Regions from separate parts of the Homo sapiens genome. Here regions 1, 2 and 3 are each linked to region 4. The links come from fine-mapping of genetic effects on gene expression. A gene starts in region 4. Each other region holds a variant in brackets. All regions are shown on one strand. Distances are from middle to middle.

Region 1 (5,336 bases), 52 kb after region 4:
AAACTCCTGAGCTCAAGCAATCTGCCCACCTTGGCTTCCTAAATTGCTGGGATTGCAGGTGTGAGCCAAAGAACCAGCTGTGTGTCCTAATTCTTGAATGAAAAAACTGGGTTTTGGGGGAGAGGTGTGTGAGAAAGATGGTGAATGTACTTTTTGTTGTAAATCAATTTACTGATAATGTTTAGTAATTAATAATAATTTTAACTTTAAGTAGTGAAATATGGTTATAGCAAATCACTTGAATGTTTCAGCCACACCCGAAACATTGTAACTGGAGAGAATATAAGTTTTTTAAACTGTGGAGAATAGAAAGTTAATTCAGTCTAGGTCCAGCAATATGTTTAATTGAGCTTTGTTTTATATTGCTTCAGCATCTATTTACTTTTTATTGAGACAGAGTCTCATTCTGTCGCCCAGGCTGGAGTGCAGTGGCACAATGTTGGCTCACTGCAACCTCTTCCTCCCGGGTTCAAGAGATTTTTGTGCCTCAGCCTCCCAAGTAGCTGGGATTACAGGCGCCTGCCACCATGCCTGGCCAATTTTTGTTCTTTTAGTAGAGGCGAGGTTTTTCCATGTTGGCCAGGCTGGTGGTCTCAGACTCCTAGCCTCAAGTGATCCACCTGCCTGGACCTCACAAAGTTCTGGGATTACAGGGGTGAGCCACCATGCTGGCCTGCTTCAGCATTTAAAATAATAATGAAAACTTTTTTTTTCCAGTGCAACATTGTACTTAAAATATTTATAAATTGTAAATCTCTATTTTGCTATTATGTGTACTTGTTACTTTGTAGCCTTTTAAAGCTTAAATGGATACCAGATTTGTTCTGAATGCTATTTTAAATGTTTTTGCATTTTCTTTCATATACTTAATACTTTTTTCTAATTAACAGATGTTAGATACTCAATATACAAAATGTGGGATTTATGGAAAATTAGACAGAAGAAAAATTACCCATGGCCCCATTACCTAAAGAAAACAACTGGTAGTTTTTAGGTATTTTAGTCTATACCTTTTTCTCTATACATATTTTAGATTGGTCATAATTATTATATTACTATTTGATAATATAGCAACATTACATAATTTTAATTTTAATGGCTACTGAATGTTAGATCCTGCTTAATACAGTAAATTACTCAGCCACTCCCACACTGTGAGATGTTTAATTTGGTTGCAGTTTTTTATTTGAAGTAATACTGAAATGAGCAATTTTGGTCATACAGCTTTTTGTATGGTTATGGTTTTGCTTTAGGCTAGTTGCCGGAAGTGAATTTTAATGGTTCAAAGAAGTATCTACATTATGAGATTCCAGATATGCACTTTCAAAACTAGAATCTGAAAGGATTATGCTTATTTTTGTCAACACTAGCTTGGTATAAGTTTCTGTTTTATTTCGCCATTGGCCTTTCTTACATTTCCAAAAGTTTTTGTTAATATACTAATAATTAAAAAAGTTTTACAGGCTGGGCGCAGTGGCTCACAGCTGTAATCCCAGCACTTTGGGAGGCCAAGGCGGGCGGATCACAAAGTCAGGAGTTTGAGACCAGCTCGGCCAACATGGTGAAACTCCATCTCTACTAAAAATACAAAAATTAGCCGGGTGTGGTGGGGGTTGCCTGTAGTTCCAGCTACTTGGGAGGCTGAGGCAGGAGAATTGCTTGTACCTGGGAGCTGGAGGTTGCAATGAGCCAAGATTGCACCACTGCACTCCAGCCTGGGCGATAGAGCAAGACTCTGTATCAAGAAAAAGATAATAATAATTGTACAGTTCTTTGATTATTATTACGGTTGGACCTTTATAAATGTGTTTGGTCACTGACATGTTTGTGGTCACTTTTATGGTATTTTAATCAAAATTTTAGAGTCACACTGGGCTGTAGGCACATGAGGAGGGCATGATAGATATTTGTTGCTTGAGTATTTGAATGTAGGTAGAACATGTAAAATTGTTATCATTGAACAGTTTCTTGCTTCATCCCCTTTATACTACTATAATTTTAAAATGCTTTTAATCATCAAACTATGCTGTACTTAGAATACTCCGTTATTTCTTACATTTAAACAAAATTGTTTAGCCACAATAAGATGAACACAAGGTCAGTTAGAAACAAGGTTACTATTACTCTGCGAAATGTGAAGCCAATTCCTTTTTCCATGTATAAGCTTCAGATTATATCACTTTCAGATATCTGAGGATTATGCCAACTGTTGATCAGAGAGTACACACAACAAATACTCACTACAGCTGCTTTCTTCTTTAGTACTAAATATTCTCATTAAGTGCTTTTTTCCTATTCACTTATCTCCCTCTTTCTTTTGTGTACATTGTACTGCTCCACCCCACCAAAGTGTAGAAAAGAGAAACAATCCTTTTTCTAAAACACATTTGTTTCACTCTTCAGAAACAATGGACAAGAATTTGAAGGATTCAGCATACCAGTTAGCTTTCTACAGCTTGCTCCCGTAGGGAACAAATTTTTGCACAAAGCAAAACATCTATCTGGCCTCTGCCAGTATCCCAAGTTTTGAGGCAAAAGTAGTAGAGTCCAGCATTTACCCTGAGGAGAGGCCTTAGATGGCAGTTGTGATTTCACTCTAGAATCTGAATTCTTAGAAAAAAGAAAGTATACAGTTCAGTGTCACCTCTTAGTTGTTGCACAGTTGTCTAAAACTATAGTGCAGTAGATGAATTTACAGTTTTTTTGACCCTAAATGGGTTGGCAATTGACAAAGATCCAAATGGCACAGTCCTTTTTGTTTCATATTTACTCTCAAGGAGCAAGGAGAGAGAATTATGTAGGCTGTTGCTATCTATCCACTCTCAAGAAATACAGCTTTTTGAGCATATTCCCTTAGCA[T/G]TCCACATATTGGCATTATTTGCTTTCAAGCCCATCGAAGTATTTTTACTGTTTTTTGTTAGAGACGTGCTACAATTGGTTTAACATTTATTGGCTATATCCTGTCTTTGGTGAGTGCCATATTAATCTACTCAAAATACTAAGCAATATGTGGAAATTTGAAAACAACTTACAACACTATAAATATGTATGTAACCACATATTACCAATGGTTGAATAGATCATTTTTGTTTCTATTTCTTGGGGGAGTATATAATGATTTTCTGGAATTAAAAAATCGGTGCAAGGGGAGAAAGTGTAAATTTGATGTGGGAATGGAAACTTACAGTAACTTGTGTTGTTGCCCAGAGGACAAGAATACAGCAAGATTGGGATGTGAGCTTACATGAAACATTTCATCACACAGACAAAGCAAATGCAATTTGATTTATATTTTATGTGGCAGGTAGAGCCAAGTTAAATGAAAAAGTATGGTCTCAAAACATCCAAAATACACTTCATATTTAAGTCTTTTCTGCTATAAAGACAAACTAAATGGTGTTTCTTGAAGCCAGAGAAGAAATAAGCCAAGTATAAAATCCTGCTGTGGTGCATTGTGTCCTTTTCACCCTTTGGTGTTGAGTGGCTACCTCAGTGTCAGGCACATATTAGAGAGTTAGTTAATACTGATTAGATTAGTTTGGCATGATTCTTTAAAGAAGGGATCAAGCGTCTTCATCAGTCATGTGTGCGTGTGTGCATGTGTATGTGTGTAGTGCACAACACAGTGTTAGATTGGGTAGAAAATGTACTGGTTATAAGTTACGACGTTTATTTGATTCCCTGTGAAATGGAACTGAGAAAAACATAGCACAATAAAGAATGATGAATTAGTGTTCTCATATTAATTTTCTGATTCAGTGACTATATTTGGTCATGATAACAAGAATATCATGTTGCATAGCAGGTGTATCTCAAAATGTGTAGTGCTCAATTAACCGTTAGGAGAAATAGAAGTTTATTTCTCATTGACATAAAGTCCAGAACAGGTTTTCTGACCAATAGCTGGCTGGCTGATTAGCAATGCAAGGACCCAGGCTAATTTCATTTTATGGTTCCACCATCTTTCATGTATGGCTTCCATTGTACTTATGTGCATGAAACCTACTGAAGGCAAAGAAAGAGCAGGGAATTTGCACTTTGGAGGCTCTCATGGGCCAGGCCTGGAGGAGTTGCATGTATTTTTGCCCACATCTCATTAGGTAGAGCTGAGGCATAGGTCATCACCTAACTGCAAAAGACTAAGAATGTAGTCCTGCTGTTTGCTCGAATAGCTGTAATCAGCTGCAATTCAGTCTTCTTAAATCACTATTTCTTTGCATTTGTGAATAAAATGACTTCAATATAATTATTATACTCTGATCTAGGATGATTATTAAGAGAATTGATGGCCCTTTAAAAAATCAGGCTTATACAAATGCTTGAGTACAAAATTCCGGAGTTTAAGTTCTAAGTTTTAAAGAACTGCTAAGCTTCGATACCTTGGTCATGACAACTTTCTCAAATGCCAGGGAGGGAACCTTTGAATCCAAATATTTTCTCTGTATGAAAGGCCCACCCACAATAACATTCATTTGCAGAAGGAAATGATTTATTGCTCCCTGTGAGTGAGTGCCAAAAAAAGTTTTCTCCTGAAATATCGTGCCAGTATTTCCATATAAACATAATTTTAGCATATTCTGCGATGTGGAAATTTATTTTTCATAGAATTTATAGGTTTTGAGATGTAAAGGGTCCCCATAAAGTCGTTTTGCAGCTTGAAAATGTGAAAATATTTAACTTTTATAGTTCAAAAATTTTATGTTGTAGAAATGATAGAAACAATATCTAGAGAATGTTTGAAGACTTTTTCTTCCAGGTTATGTGGTCTGCTTGCCAGAGGACATTGTTTTATATTCTTATTCATTAAACAAGCACTTATTGAGCATTAACTATGTGCTATGTGATTAATTCACTTAGTACCTAGTCCTCCAAAATTTAAAGTCAGTTAGAGGAGAAGCTTCATACTGTTATAGAAGAAGCAGGGAAGGAGCAACAGCCTAGTATGTTTTAAGAGGCTTTGTGAAGTTTTAAGAGAAAATATAACATATCCACTTGGCCTTGAAAAAATCAATGGGTATTTGCCTGGAATGGAAAGGGGTTAGAGTATTCAAGACAAAGAACAGCATGAGTAGAGCAGTGAAAGCTTTGAAAGCTCATGACTTGGTTTGGATGCTGGAATTCCAAAAAGGTAGACATTTTGTGATTTATGGAGGAATTATGGGATGTGCACCTGTCCCAGTTGATCAGACTAGCGTGACAGACCATACTGAGACCCTTTTGCTTTTTTCTGTAGGCACTGGGAAGCTATGCAGGGTTTTATATCTCATTATATCAATGAGATAATCAGATCTCTAATTTTAGAAAGATAACCCTGTTAGCCCTGCAAATGATGTGTA
Region 2 (5,336 bases), 99 kb after region 4:
TTATAAAAACATTTAAGAAGTGCATTTTGAAAAATAATGAATTTGAATATGGAAATATGTGGACATGACTATAATAAGAATAATGAAGTAGATAGATTCTTGTACTTATATGTAGCACCACTATGAACAGCATATTTACAAATGAAGGCTGAAAAAGTTTTGTTGTATCAGTGACTCAGAAACAACAAGGGGTATTGAGATTGTGGATGCAAGTTTTTGATAACGGTGACAAGGCTCTGAACAACACAAATCTCTTGATTTATGTAGTTGTTGCCTTCTTGGAATTCAGTATGTATTTAAAATCTTTGATAAATACTATGCATTTATATGTAAAATGCAGTAAGGTTCTAGACTGAGATAATTAAACATATTTTTCACTCTCATGAGTCCAGCCATTCATTCAAGAGTCTTGAGGGACCCATGAAAACTCTTCGTTTGGGACAGTCTCCTGTATTGCAGTAAACCTAGCAAGCCTATTCTTGGCCCATGAAAAGAAAGACATGCTCCCTAGTCATTGTGCAAGCCAAAAATGCGATAACTTATTTTCCAAAAAGCTACTCTTTATGTGATCCCCTTGAGAACCTCTGCTCTAGGGTTGTAAGCTTTTAAACTTGAGGGCTATTTTCTAAAGCATCAGTATTTTTCTTTTTTCCTTCTTTGTAGTCTATTCAATTATCATCTCTTATACTGAAATATAATCAATAAGGACAAAGGATTCACATTCTTTTATTCCAGAATATGCCTAACATATATTGGATGGCACCAACCATAATAATCTAGGTGCAAAAAAATTGTAAACAAATTATCAGTTCTAACAAACCACTGTGGATGATTATTAAAAAGATCCTTTAGTCTTCTTTAAAGGATCCTTCTTTAAAGGAATTCTGGTTCATATTGAGATTATTTTATTTTATAATATGTGGGGGGATAAGAACACCAAACATTTATAGAGCACTTATCTAACAGTTATTATGTTACTTGCCTTCTCTCTCATTTTAAGTCTCATAACCATCTGATGAAGCAAGCATTATTAATATCTTCATTTGATAGAAAAGAAATCAGAGCCATAGTGAGGTTAATTATCTTGCTCAAGGTCACACAGCTATTAAATAGTAGAGCCTGGACTTAAACTCAGGTTTCTCGGACTCTACAGCATTTGCTCTAAATTGCACTGGTGTGCCGATGACTCTTTTCAGATGTTTTTCATCACTATGAAACTATGTCTAACATAGACCTTCAGAAAAGCTCTTCCCATCTCTTTTAAAATAACATAACATGTACGTAACAAAAATACGGGATAATTAAAACTCTGAAGACAGAGGATAGTGCTTATTTTTTGTTAATCACCTTCAACTTCAACTAAAGGGAAAGCCTGTTTCTAAGTCTTCTGGTTCCAGTTACCACTGAAGAAAAGGAATGTGCATTGCTGCCACTGGTGATATTTGTGACTTCTAGATAAACAGTGCCTTCTAGTCTCCTGTGTATTATTCTTTTCAGCATTAATAAATTTATTTAAAATAAAGTTATTTGAGTTAATCAAATTCTTGTGCTTGGAAGTGAAATAATCAGATTTTAACTTACATTTAAATTTTAGAGAGGTCTGAATTGATTATTTAAATCTCAGTAATTTATTGAAACATCACTGTGTGCCCCATAAATGTGTACAGTTAGTATTTGTCAAATGAAAATAAAATAAAACTTCGAATAACTTTGCAGTTGTTAACACAGCCTCTTCCAGTTTTCTGCTAAAAGACCAGTGAAGGCCCAGGGGGAATACAACAACAAAAAAGACTGACAATTGCTAGAAATTTTGATGCATTTCTTTCACCTATAAGGAGCTGGCCTGGGGAAAAAAACAGATTGTCTCATGAAAAAGAAAACCCAGCTATCCAAAGTAAGAAATGTAGAGGTAGTTTTTGTTGTTGTTGTTTTTTTGATAAGATCTGCTGCTTGCTCAGAGACCCATGATCTTTTAACAGCTAGAAAACTGGGCAGCCCTCCATCTGCTGCAGGGGTGCCGTTTTTCTGAGGATGCTGTAGCATTATCATCACTGATGCCGCCTCCTGACCTCCTGTTCCATATGTCTCTATTCTCTTCTTATGTCTTTCTCCAGCCAGCTAGCAGCGTAAGTCATAGAAAACAGCAAGAACCTGGGAGAGGGGGAGCAGCTGACTACTGCATCCTGAAAGGAGGGGGTTTCCTCCTGTAAAGGGCTCAAGGTGGGGACAGAGAACTCAATGGTAGGCATTTTAGTTTTCAAGTGCTCCTTTTGCTGATTAACAATATGTAACAAGAAGGTCCTGCTGCAGTCCAGAAGACCAGCTTTAAATGAATGTATCACAGTCACTGAGAACTGGGCTTCTAACTCTTCATATCTTTCTACATTCTTGCTATAGCATTGAAAAGGGATGTCTATAATCAGCTAAGGGCATAATGGGCAGGCCAAACTGTTTTGTGGTAGATGCCGTCATCATTACAGAAAGGCAGTAGAAAGGTGGCAAACAACTTGGGACCTAATTTAGAAAACTATGCCAGGTGAGGGCCTATCATCCTGAAGATGCAAGAGGAAAGCACATTTTTTGAAATATTTGTAATGACTAGAACACTTAGAAAACAGTTTAGCATAACAGAAGGTAGAAGATATGATATTTATGAAACTTCAGCAAAGAGCTCTAAGGAGAACAGACTGCTTCTCTAAAGGTTTGGGAAGATTGCAAGGAACACTAAAACAGGGTTGGACACAAATCTGCAGAGGGGGCAAGAAAGAATTCATGATTTTAAAAACTGAAGTAAAGAGTATGCTTCAGGAACTCTTTCAGA[T/G]TTCAAGAGAAGGATCAAGAAATGAAAAGAATGAGATAAAAAAGTATGGAGGAGAGAGAACTAAAATCCAGTCTGAGAAAGATAAATGCAAATGTCTGATAAAATATGAAAAAAAGGCCTTACTCTTATGCAAATAAATGCAAATTAAAATAAATTAACAAATATTTAAGAAAATGTGCCAAATTAACAAATATTTAAGCAAATGACAACATACTTTTGATACAAGTTCAGTGAAAAGGTGCTATGTGAAATATGTAGCCGTTTAGGCAGTTTTGTACCATTTTCTGTAGAAGGTTAGCACTTTATCTTCAATGAATAGTTACACACATATAGTAAGATCTATATAAAATGACAACAGAATTTGGAAAAAATCTAGTGGACTATAAGATATTTAGATGTAATAATTTATGGCCTTAAAATCATGGTTTAAAAAATTTTAGTTTACAAAATTTTATGTAAGAATATCCTTCCGATATAATGTACTTTATACATTTCCCAAGCTAGAAGCTAACAGATGAACAAGGAGAATAAATATATTAAGTAGGAAATAAATTTGGGAAGCTGCTTGCTACCCAGATTTATTATGACTTACTTCCCAGGTCATTTATTATTACTTGAAAAAGCATAATAAGTGTTAGCTCATTATAGGCTCTGAGATGTCCTCAAAAAGACATCTGTTAAATTTGCTTAAACCTATTTTAAACAATACAACACTTTTTTTAGTGGAATAGATACTAATATCTCCCAGAATGTTCTTTAAATATCAGTTTAGAAAACAATGTGTTAATGACAAAAATATATTTTTGAAAAACATATGTTTATGTAAAATGGAAGTAAATACACCAGATTATTTACTTTTTATTTTTATTTTTTTATTTTTTTGAGACGGAGTCTCGCTCTGTCGCCCAGGCTGGAGTGCAGTGGCGCAATCTTGGCTCACTGCAAGCTCTGCCTGCAGGGTTCACGCCATTCTCCTGCCTCAGTCTCCCGAGTAGCTGGGACTACAGGTGCCCACCACCACGCCTGGCTAATTTTTTTTTTTGTATTTTTAGTAGAGACAGGGTTTCACCATGTTAGCCAGGATGGTCTCGATCTCCTGACCTCGTGATCTGCCCTCTTCGGCCTCCCAAAATGCTGGGATTACAGGCGTGAGCCACCGTGCCTGGCCAATACACCAAATAATTTAAAATGATCACTGAATAGAATTGTTTTATGCTTGTATGTAACTCCTGAATTTTCCTCAACAAGAATTTCAATAGAAATGCAATGCTTTTGTTATAAAAATATATAGCAAGTAAAAAATATAGAAAATAAATTTGGCTATAAAACTTAGTCATTAGAAGACATAAAATGGAACCATCCTTCTGATGGAATTCATGCCATAATTTTTTTCTATTATAGAATTTTGGATTAGGCATTTATTTTAAGATGTGGCAAGAGATATTTTGACCAAATTTTTAGTGATATACATGAGTTAGTTTCTCCTGAACTGTAAATTAGTTCAAATAGACCAAAAAATGGAAAGAGTTATCTTGAGTCTAAGAAGAGTGAAAATAGTTGTTTTCTGTTCATTTTGTTTTAATCAAAGTTTGAATACAACTCTTGTTATTTGTATTAACTCCAATCAAATGAAAAATGGGGCAGGTAGGCTAGTTGCTGTTGATGGTTGAAGGGTATGGGTGTGTGCATGTGTATGTGTGTTTAAACTTTGTAACTTCTACTTCATTTTTAATACATCAAAGTGAAAGACACTGTAATCCTATCTCCTCAGTCTTTCACCACCCCTTCCAAATCCACTTAAATTCTTCTAATTATTCACAGATGAGATTAAGTCCAAAGGAATTTTTGTTTACATTGTTGTTCTATTTTCTCTTTTTCTTTAGAGATGACTACCTTTGTTTTTGCAATTATGTTAATAGATAAGCATGTCAACATAATTTATAATTGCCTTAATTATTTTATTAATGCAAGACTTTTACACTATCAGAGGCAGATCTGGAAGTGATTTAGATGCTTGCCTTTTTTGAAGAATTTGAACTGTTGTCCCATCAGACTGTCTAGAGCCAACTAAATTGGGAGATGAGAGAACTGAGCTTCAAGAGGCCACTCTTTATGTTAGAATGGGTAGTATTCACTGTAAGTTGTAAAGTGAAGTTGAAAGAAATGCACGTTCTAGTTAATAATTTTTTAAAAAAAGAATTACTTTTTAACAGGATTTTAAAAAAACTTCCGTCTTTTAAATTTTAAAACGCTTTCCATCTTTTCAATTATCCAAGTTAATTTTTCATGACTTAAACTGAAGATTACAGCACGCAATACCCTTCCCACGAGGGAGGCTTTTAATAGTGGAGTCAAGAAACCAGTTTTATTTTGTTTACTATAGTGTGTATAAGGGGAATATAGTATTCCCCCAATCCCCACATTAATTTACTAGTTAAGACATTATTTCAGAAGATCTTGTGCATATGTATTTTTAGAATAAAGATAGAAAGCACTGGAATCCTTATATGGTCAA
Region 3 (5,336 bases), 260 kb after region 4:
GATACAATTTGAACTTTCAAGTAAAAACTGCAATTTTGAAAAACTTTGCAACTGCCACAGTGACCTTGAGAGCGTCTAAATATTTAAAATCCTTTTTGATGACATTGGTCCAGATATTACAAGTGTGATTTTTTTTTTGTTGTTACTTCATTAGGAAATGTGTTACCATTTGAAAGTTCTGCGTAACTCAGTGGGCTGATATTTTTCAAATGATCAGTGATCAACACATGATGTTACAAAATTATGCATGGATGAGAGATTCATTCAAAGTAGAAGATAATAGAATAGATTGTAATGTCATCATACAGATGTTTTATTCGTATGATTCAAATCTATGTTGCAACTAAACTTTTGAGAAACTACCACTTCTTGAATTTGGGAGTAGTATTAAGGAAGAATATTCATAATATCTAAAAAGGATGTTAAAATATTGCAGGTATTTTGAATTATTTTGCAATTATTTATAGATTGTAGAGATAAGAGAAAAGAATGGCAAGAGAAGGAGAAAGATGGAAGGCTTTAACAAAGTATTTGCGAAGTGTTTTCCACATCTACTCCTGACTTTTGCGGGGTCCAGGGCAAGAGTACAAATGGAGAACTGCAGACCATATGTCAAGATATTTAAAAGTTATAAATTTAGCTAACATGCAATTAAATAAAAATATATTTGTCCCCTTTCCCTGACAAGTATACCATCTTACCCACAATATATGTAACTATATAAAGCAACAGTTTATACCAAGTAACTGTGGGTAGTGCAACTTCAGTGTAATTGTCATTTTTCATTAAGGACTATGATTTATTATAGGGAGACACAGCAGCATTGGTCAGACAAGACAACAGTAGGGAGAAAAGATTTATAGTTATTTTATTTGCTCCTTCAGTTTCTTTTTCCATAGGGAAAACATTCACTTTGTTTTTCCTTCTATGAGTGGGGGTCTTTCCTCCCCACGAAGACTCAGCTGTTTATCCACTGTGTACTCTTTCCTTAACCCCACTCTTCAGATTTCTCAGAAGATGCCCAAGTGAGGAATTTGCAAGGTTTCTTTTCACTCTTCAGCAAGCCATGCAAGCAGCTCTCTTTCCTGTCAATATTGTTCTTTTCAGTTTCTCAAACGAACTGAAGTTGGAAGGCCAGGTTCCAGTGTATAATTCCTGTATTTGTGTGAATTCTGTGCTGAACTACTGCTGCCTTGGGAAAGGTTATCTGACTTTGATCCCATAGCCACTACCCTGTTCTCTCCACCTGTCTTCTTACTGCATCACGAGGGACTTTTTTGCATGTATGTGGCCTCTGCATGTTCATATCTAAAAGCAATGTTAGTGTGGGCCATATGGGGCCTGTGTTAGAATCACCATGTGTGTTTCTTAAACATTCAGTTCTTGGGCTTCACCCCAGTGTGCCACAAAGTTAGATGTTAAGAGTGTTGTCAGTCACAGGTAATGTTTGAGGTGTTTCCTAGACAGATGAATCTTGGCACTTAGCATCAGTATTTCAATATTTCATCAGTATTTCAGTGTTGCCCTAAAAACTTTCCTTTAAGCCTGTTATCTGGTTTAATTCTCTCAGCAACTCTGAGATTGTTATTCCCATTTTTCAATGTGTATACTGTACTGCCACTGGGAAATTTGGGTCTTGAAATGGCCTTGGTATATATCTTTTTCTAATGCAAAGAGTCTACATTTTATTCTTCAGGATTTGTAGATAGTGTTGTTAGAGAACACCTGCTCTATAGTTGTGGAAACTCTAGAGAGATAAGATGCTTTTATGTCAACATCAAAAAGAAAATACTGTTGTGAAATGGGTAAACAAATTCGGAAGGTTTCTGTGGGCAAAATTCCTCTCTAAAGTTTGAGGAAAATACTGTCTTTTCATGCTTGATCCTAGCCAAAAGGCTGAGAAGCGATAATACTATCTTTTTAATAAAGTCAGTTCACATTAAGTAAAGCAAATTTTAATGTATAGGTTAAACTGAAATATTTAGTGATGAAATATAAAATAATTATTAAAGAATGCATGCTAATCATTTTATGTACATGCAACAGTCTTATAAAATTCACATTTTAATTTGCTGATAATTTGCATTTTACAATACTGTTCTTAAAGGAAGTAATTTTAGGTATCCAGAATAATGTTGCTGTCAACAGAGAAGTTTTGGATTGAGTTGGGAATTGTATGGAAATACCTATATTGTTTTTGGAAAGTTTGTTTTAAGAATGAATAAATTGAAAGCTGATTAATAATATTTCCAGAAAACAAATAATGAAGCCATTTACTCTACTTGCTTTTTAGAAAGTTAATATTGCTCTAGCCCATAAAGTGCTATTTAGTAGCTAGGGGGATGTTAGTTACCCTTAACCACACAGTACTCTAGTTGTTTCCCTGAGTTAATATTAACTACCACAGATCTGTAATTTATAATGTGAAAGCATTTTAGTCACTGGATTACCTGGATTTTTAAGTATTTTGCATCCCTGTGAAATACTGAGTGTCCACTTGTTTATGGAATTATATGAGCTTTTTGTGCAGTTATTTTTGGAATTATTATTTCACACAACTGAAATGTCTTCCTAATGATAAATAACTACTATTTTTCAAAACTGACAAACAAACCAGCCTAGGATTC[A/G]ATTTTGGGTTGCATAAACAAATCAACCTAGTGTGGTTAAGAAATGGAACCTGAACTGGAAGAGTTAATCTTCAAGTTCAGCTTGAGCTGTGTTTACTGATCCTTTTCTGCTGCTTCTTGCTAATTGGCACCTCGGACTTCATACTAATTAATGGGATAGCAAGGGGCAGGTGGCGCCAATCTATTTTGATAATCCTTGTCAGCAATGTCTGTGTAATCTTTTTGTTTAATTATAATGAATGTGCAATTGGGGTGCATGAACTTTCAACAGTTTTTTTTTCACTGGAAGTTCACTGGTCAAGGGAAGTTTTGCAACTGTCGAATACCGCTTCATATTGCATACAAAGCCACTTGTTTTACCACTGTAGTTGTAGTAATTCACATGAATGGAAGTCGCTAATGGAAATAACCTATGCTTCTTTAAAACTAGACAAATATAACTTTATCCAGAGAACTGAAAAACATTTGCCTCCTTAATTGTGCCCAGCGTCCTCATTTTTGGAGTGAGGGTAACAAATTTTGTTTAAATAGGGGCATTTAATTTTAAGAGTACTTAATGGATAAAAATATTAGAATAATGTTTTCTCTGGAAGGAAGAGGCTAGGCAGGAAGTCAAAATAAATGGAACTGCTTTACTTAAGAATTTGCAAGGTTTAGCTGTGAAATGACTAGATAAATGATATTGTTGGAAAGTAAAGTTACCTACTAGAGAATGCATATTTTGTTCCTTTCCATTATAGAGAAACTGTTATGTTTTTAAATATAAAGGTGGGTTTAGGTAAAATCAGTTCACTGTATTAGTAGTTTTGAAGTTTGGGGACTGGTCTTAAAATTGTGATCCATGCAAGGCATTATTTATTTGTGGAAAGTGAGAGAAAGGGAGGGAGGAAGAAGTCGAAAAACACCTCCTTGGCTGTTAATACCTTGAAACTTAGTGGAAAGGAAATAACACTCAATTTATAAGGACTCCAGTGTAAACAAACAGGAGCTATGATAGGAAATAGCACTAGGGCCAATTTATAAGACTTGGTCCATGTTCATTTTTCAGATAAAACTTCCTGTACTTACTCCTAGCTGTTTAAGTTAGACCAAAATCAAAATAAATCGTCCTCAAGTGGTGAAAGGAAATATTTTAATTGGGGTATATTTTTGGAAAATCAGAAATAGTTACTGCCAATATTGGTACCTTGATAAAATTTAAAATTATTATTGAAGAGAATAGTGTAAATTTATACAAGCTTGGGTGTTATGCACCTTATAGTTTATTATATAATAATAAAGTTTGATTATATTTGTACCTTGCCAGAGAATCTTGATTTATCTTAATTTAAATTTGCAATTAAAATGAAAACCCATTGCCTTAAATCTGCAGTTCTCAACCCAGAGACAATTTTGTCTCCCAGGGGACATTTGGCAATGTCTGGAGACATTTTTTATTTTTACTGCTAGGTAGGGATGCCACCAGGATCTAATGAGTAGAAGTCAAGGATGCTGCTAAACATCTTACACTACAAGGACAGTCTCCTACAAAAAAGAATTATCAACTGGGCGCAGTGGCTTACGCCTGTAATCCCAGCACTTTGGGAGGCCGAGGCGGGCAGATCACGAGGTCAAAAGATCGAGACTATCCTGGCCAACATGGTGAAAGCCGGTCTCTACTAAAAATACAAAAAATTAGCTGGGCGTGGTGGTACATGCCTGTAGTCCCAAGTACTCAGGAGGCTGAGGCAGGAGAATTGCTTGAACCCGGGAGGCAGAGGTTGCAGTGAGCCGAGATTGCGCCACTGCGCTCCAGACTGGTGACAGAACAAGACTCCATCTCAAAAAAAAAAAAAAAAAAGAGTTATCTAGCTCAAAATGTTAATGTTAATATTGCTGGGATTGAGAAACTTGCCCTACGTAAATGGTGCCGTCTACTGGTGAAACACCAATTTATTTTTATTTTGTTATTAGTTTTGAGACACGTTATTGTCTGTTGCCTAGGCTAGAGTACAGTGGCACGATCGTTACTCACTGCAGCCTCCAACTCCAGCCTTGAACTGCAGCCTGGGCTCAGGCAATGCTCCTGCCTCAGCCTCCTGAGTAGCTAGGATTACAGGCACATACCATCATAACCATCTAATGTTTTTAATTTTATTTTTGTAGAGATGAGGTCTTGCTTTGTTGCCCAGGCTGATCTCAAACTCCTGGCCTCAAGTGATCCTCCTGCCTTGCCTCCCAAAGTGCTGAGATTACAGGCATAAGCCACCGTGTCTGGCTATCTTATTTATGATCACTGGATTGCAAAGATGCTTGAGACTTTATGAAGAAAATACGCTGAAAGAAATAGTCATATATGGGCATGCAAGTATGGAGTTGTATGGGATTAAGTAACAAATAGCGTATTCCTAATTTTTAATTTTTTCCCTAGGTCTAAAATATAATGGGAAATAGCAGTTACAAATTCTTTGTAGCTTTTTCTTTCAATTCCTACCATATTTATATTCAACATGGAAGAAAGTACAGTACTTACTTGGCCTAGAAAGAATGCAGTGCAAATGCAGTGATTGTCTTATTGCATACTTTTGTGTTTATGAATTCTTGCATCATTTACATGGTGTGGAGTAGCTATAAGTTAGAGATTTTAAAGAAGGTTTTTAACCTAGCATATTATTCAGGCTTTGGTTCATCTGATTTAATAAAATTTAAACCTGGTGTTAATGTATTATG
Region 4 (5,336 bases):
GCCATGCTTTTTCATAGGGTTCTCCTTGCTTAGGATGTTTATTCTCTTTCTAGCCCCGCTTTGATCTCTAAAGATCCTTCAGGACCCTTATGAAATGTGACTACTCTAGGAAGGTTTTCCTGAGATTTCTAGGCAGAATAGTTCATTTTTCTATGCTCCAAAAATTGTGTGTTCATGCATTAATGCACTTCTCATAGAAAGTTCTATATATTTTTTAAGTATCTTGTTTCTTCTGTATTATGAGTTTCAAGAAGGAATGGACAGAGTTTGCCTCTCAAATACCAGGACTTGGTTTGTCATAGGCACTCAAAAATGTTGATTTTTGAATAGCTTCTTTCCAAGGCTCCCCATTCCTGCTTACAGAAATGTTACCATCTAAGGCCCACCTCAAACACAGTTTCCCCTGTACCCCATTTTCTCCCACCTGGAGTGCTTTTTTTTTTTCATCCCAAAGACCTACAGGAATTTCCTTTGTTCTCTGATTTGGAATTTTAAAAAATATATTTAAACAAGGTATTTAAAAAAATCTGTCTCCTTGTCTGCAAGTTGATTGAAGTGGAATCTGTGTCTTCTCTATCCAGAGATGCCTGTATTCCCTGAATCAGTATCTTATACCCAGCAGATTCTCTGAAGGATATTTGCTGAATGGAGGAGTTAAGCCAAGGAAAGATAATCCTTAGTGCAACTTCTGAAAAGATACAGGTGACAATACCACTAGCTCCAAAACATTCTGCATAATGTCTGCTTTATTTCACTGCAGTTTATGAGTGCTCCAATTCTAAGGGAGATTATACAGCTGTCAAATACAAATTATCAGTAATTCACACAGTAGAAAGGATAGATTCAATCAGGTTTCTTTCCTCTTTAAACTTGCTTAATGTTGATGAGATATTGACAATGATCAACACATTACATTTTTAGTTCTATGGATTTCCAGTAAATTCTCTAAGCTTTTCTATGTATACAATCATAAGCTCTGTAATGAATTATAATTTGGTATCTTATTTTCAATATTTAAAACTCATATTTCTAAACTCACATTTCATTTTCGATAATTTATTATTTTTAGTTAATTACATAATAGCTCATAATTCCTTGCTTTGTCTTTTATTTTAATGGTGTAGAAGTTATAATTTCCGTGTCTTCAAGCCCCCTTCTCCCCACAAAACACTTAGTTAATATGAGGATGGAGATGATGAAAAATTGGATTGAGGACCAGGTAGAAGGTAATTTAGGTAGTCATATGCTTTATTGTTTTGAAAGAAAGGAGGTGGAAAAGGGAAGGGGTGGGAGTGAGGGTATCAGAGAAGAATTGGGATGAGAGTAAAATGAATGGATTTTATCTTGGAATTCTTGGGGCAAGAGGATGAGTACTGGTACTGGGGACTGGAACAGTGGTTGAATAAGGAAGGTCAGATGATGTCAATGACTAATTTCACTTGTTTTGGAAATTTTCTTTCAGATACCTTTCTTCTTCCAGTTTGGCATTAGAAATCACAATGCAGATATATCATGGGGCAAAAAGACCTTTGTGGAGACTCTAACATTGCTTTTATAGAAAAAACATGACCACATCTTCATACACTCAATAAACACTGGGGGCACCGCCTGCTTTAAGTGCAAGCTGCATAAAATAAATTGATACACAAATGAATTTTTTATTGATAAGTGCAAAAAGATTACATTTAATGTTTAAAAAAGATTTAATAGAAACAATTTAAGAAAAGGGAGTAGTTGAAAGAAAATAGTAGGCTAAGAATTGAATATAGAAATAGATATGAAGAAAATTGGAAGAAAGTTACTTCAGGGTGAAAAACTGTTAAAAAAAAAAATGACTTAGATCACACACTTGGTGGTGACCAGAGACTGTTTGTCAATATTTTGGAGGAAAAAAATTTTACAGAAGGAGAAAATAAGTAATGCTGGAGAGTGGGAAGCTGAAAGGTATTGAAAGGAAAAGAGTATTTGGAAGTCACGAGATATCTCCCTGGGAAATAGAGTTGGCAAAATGGCTGATTTTAAAGAGGTTAACTATTCTCCCCAAATTTCTGACTGTGAACTAGCTTACTTTATATTTACCCACTTAGAAAGTGTTTCAACACTTAAAGACTTAGCAAGGAGACCACAAAGTATAAGACGTTACATACTTTTCCAAAAGAAACACGACTAACTGTAAACTGTCATCAAATACAAATGGAATGGGTTTTCTCTTTTGGGTTTTATTTTTTTATTTTTAATTTTTTGGTGGTTGTTTTCGTTTAACGGTTTCAAAAAATATGTAGAAGGGAAATATTTCATTTCCCTTGGACGCTCAACTGTATATATTTCAAGATTCTTAAAACCCCCACCTCAAACTGCAGGCTTAATTTTAATGTGTTCATTTTTTACAAGGTGTGTCAACGTTTTATCAATTTCTGAAAAGTGTCTATGGCCCCGAAAAGTTGAAATCCACGACATTATATCATCTCTGCGAGCCCTTTCCAGCTCTCAAGGTACAATAATTCCACGAATCTTTGTTCTTCAAACCAGGAGGTTTTCTGGAAACCTTCTTAAACAACCAGGACAGGACCCATGAGGGAAATCTTGGGGATGCTCTGAGCAGCGGACGGGGCTTGGGAAGCGCACCCCTGTACCCGGGCTGCCTCCGGCCCGCACCCCGCCGCTCCCCAAGTCGGCTCCGCACTCCGCACACAGGCGGCGGCGCTGGGGCCGCTCCAAGTGCGTTGAGAAGTGTAATCCCTCCGCTAAGTACTTGGCTCTCAGTCTCCAATCACTAGTGGGAGCTGGAGAGGGCAAGTGAAAAAAAAAAATTCCAGAGGCAGCCGAGGAGCGAGAGGGAAAAAAAAAAAAAAAAAAAAAAAAAGTCCCGCGGTGGCGGCGGCGGCGGCGGCGGAGCGGCCGCGGCGGCCAGAAGTTGACGGCGCAGCCGGGCGCGGGGCGCGGAGTCGGCGGGGCCTCGCGGGACGCCGGGCAGTGCGGAGACCGCGGCGCTGAGGACGCGGGAGCCGGGAGCGCAGCCGCGGGTAAGGCGCGCGCGGCGGGGCCCCGTCCCCTGCGGGTGGCCGAGTTCCCGAGCGCGCGGGAGGCGGCCGAGCCGGCGAGAGCCGGGCAGAGCGAGGGGCGGCGCGGGACGGGTAGCGGCTGGGTGCGGAGCTGGGCGGCGGTCGCCCTAGGCAGGACGGAGCGCGCGAGGGAGAGGGCGAGAGCGAGGGCGGGCTGCGCGGCCGTGGGGCGGTGGCGGCGGCGGGGAGGGGGTCAGGCGGTGGCCGCCTCGGCTTTGTGCGCGGGCGGCTCTGCCGGGACCCCGAGGCCTCGTGCCTGCGCAGGCGAGGAGTCGGGGCAGCGGCGGCGGCGGGCGGGACACGTGCTTCGGGCTGTAGGGACGCCCCAAGGCAGGGAGTCGGACCTGCGAGCGGAGGGATGGGGCGGGAGGGCGAGCTGAGGGCAGTCGCGGAATCCGGGAAATGGGAGGGAGCCCGGCGGGGCGGGGGCCCAGGGCCAGCCCAGGCGGGACCCGCAGGCACCCACCTGCCCCGGACGCCTCCCGAGACCCAGCCTTGCCGTGGGGGAAAGTGCGCAGCGGGCTGGTCCCGGCGCCTTGGACTGGGCTCCGTCTCTGCTTCAGTTGCCTGTCTCTTCTCCTCTCTCTCCTGCTTCTCTCTCTCTATGCCTCTCTCTCAAGTTCTGGGTCTTTCATTCTCTCCCTTTTCTTCCTTTCTCCCTTCCTCTCCTTATTGCTATCCTTTGCCTCTCCCCCCGGTCTCTCTTTCCTTCCGTGCGTCTGTCTCCCTCTCCCCACCGCCTGCTCTGGCTCTCCCAGTGTGTCCCTCCTCTGTCCCTTCATCCTCTTCCCTCTGTCACTTTCGCACAATCTTTTGGTCTCTCTCTCTCTCTCAAGAGGCTTTCGCTCCCGGTCTTCCTGGCTCCCCTGTCTCTTGCTCTCTGCGCCCATCTCTCTGCTCGTCCCTCTTTCTGTCCAGGCTCCGTGTTTCCGCCTGTGTTTGGCGGTGTTGGAGAAGAGCCTCTGGAAGTTGTCCGCTGTGGTGCGGGTCTTACTTCTTTAGAGCTGCACCCCTCCAGCTGGGTCCTGCTGTTTGTTCTGAATGGAAACGCTGCAGTTCCCTTGAGTTATTAGAAACTGCTCTTTTCTTAGCCACCTTTCCAGCAAGGTGAGGTCAGTGACTACGAGCGGCCACAAAGGTGCCAGTGAAAGACAACGGAGGAAGAGAGCCGTTTCACTACCTCCAACAGATAAAGAAAATGTGTTAATACCAAACTTACCTGCAGCAAAGCAGAGCCACCTGAGAAAAGGTTCTTGAGTTCTGCAAAGAAACATAAAAGGCTCCACTGGAAATGAGAGGGTTCAGCTAAAAAGTGTTTGCAAATAATTTGAAAAAGCACTTAATGGAAATCTCTTGCTGTGCTAAATTGATGCCAACGAATCTCTGTTTTCTTACATATATTTTTAGGATTCCAGTGACAACTCTCCTAATTATTGTTTTGGGCAAGTTATGGGAAATGTCCTGTGTCAACTGGGATGTTAGTATTTAAGAAAATATTCAGTCTTTGTACTTTATACCCCTTTACACTCTAGTGATCAAGAAGAATTATTTCTAGCTGTAAAGAAAATAGTAAAGGATTCGTCAGTAATTTTAAAACATGAGACATGCCGGTGATCAATAATGTTTTTGGAAAACTTTCATTATAAGGATGTTTTGAAGGATGTTACATCTTAGTGAAATATGTAAGTTATTACACACTTAGATCATTGTGCAATGCAAAAAAGTTTGTGTTATAAGCAGATCATAGTAGTGATGTCTTTTTATGGGAAACATAGCTGGGAAATTAATTGCTCTGATTTTCACTGTTTTCTTTAGTCATGCATAATGTACCTTTGTGTTTAGCAAAATATGGCCTAGAGCTACAAAACTTGATACAGTGTGTTATTTGTCCAATCTGAATTACCATTTAGAAAACCACCTTTTCCTTTTAGTTACATGATATAAGTTGATATGATCTCATTACTCATGTGCTAGGGGCCGCTGATGAATTTTAATGGCACTGATTTGTGTTTTTAAATCAAAATGTTAGTTTTTGGTGAGTTAAAATCTTGATTTATGTCATGTTAGTGAATCATCACTATTTATAGGGGCTTTGCCACCTTGTCTGCCAGGTGCTGCCCAGCATTTAGTCTAGGCTAGGTTGTCTGAAATTCCCTGTTAGATTATTGTCCCTGAGTGACGTGCTGCCACGGCCTGCTTATGTATGTTTCTCTAAATGTTCCAGTCGTTAAATAATATTTATTAAAAGGAAATTGACTTAAATTTTTCCTCATA

Direction of the effects. Positions count from the first base shown, and alleles are read on the strand shown. Sizes are in standard deviations (SD) of each study's normalised expression.
With allele T in place of G in region 1, the expression in sun-exposed skin of the gene that starts at base 2,910 in region 4 is lower (small effect, 0.37 SD a copy in GTEx).
As copies of T replace G in region 2, the expression in gastroesophageal junction of the gene that starts at base 2,910 in region 4 goes up (small effect, 0.16 SD a copy in GTEx).
For the expression in pancreas of the gene that starts at base 2,910 in region 4, G is the high allele of the variant in region 3 and A is the other (large effect, 1.2 SD a copy in GTEx).

The links. PIP is the estimated chance that this variant, and not a neighbour inherited with it, causes the effect. A credible set is the group of variants that fine-mapping cannot tell apart.
Region 1: its variant is the best candidate, but not a certain one, in a credible set for the expression of BMPR1B in sun-exposed skin (GTEx, PIP 0.65).
Region 2: its variant is the best candidate, but not a certain one, in a credible set for the expression of BMPR1B in gastroesophageal junction (GTEx, PIP 0.59).
Region 3: its variant is the best candidate, but not a certain one, in a credible set for the expression of BMPR1B in pancreas (GTEx, PIP 0.61).

Annotation. Positions count from the first base shown.
Region 1 is chr4:94,807,313-94,812,648 of GRCh38, forward strand. The region is part of intron 1 of BMPR1B (bone morphogenetic protein receptor type 1B); the gene reads left to right. Among named protein-coding and RNA genes, the nearest start is that of BMPR1B, 52 kb to the left of the region's middle. The variant T/G (reference allele first, on the strand shown) is at 2,860.
Region 2 is chr4:94,854,261-94,859,596 of GRCh38, forward strand. The region is part of intron 1 of BMPR1B (bone morphogenetic protein receptor type 1B); the gene reads left to right. Among named protein-coding and RNA genes, the nearest start is that of BMPR1B, 99 kb to the left of the region's middle. The variant T/G (reference allele first, on the strand shown) is at 2,822.
Region 3 is chr4:95,016,129-95,021,464 of GRCh38, forward strand. The region is part of intron 3 of BMPR1B (bone morphogenetic protein receptor type 1B); the gene reads left to right. Among named protein-coding and RNA genes, the nearest start is that of BMPR1B, 260 kb to the left of the region's middle. The variant A/G (reference allele first, on the strand shown) is at 2,628.
Region 4 is chr4:94,755,046-94,760,381 of GRCh38, forward strand. BMPR1B (bone morphogenetic protein receptor type 1B) reads left to right here and starts at 2,910. Exons shown (of 13, transcript NM_001203.3): 1 at 2,910-3,023. It overlaps BMPR1B-DT (BMPR1B divergent transcript), which reads right to left and starts at 2,488. Exons shown (of 3, transcript NR_121610.1): 1 at 2,349-2,488.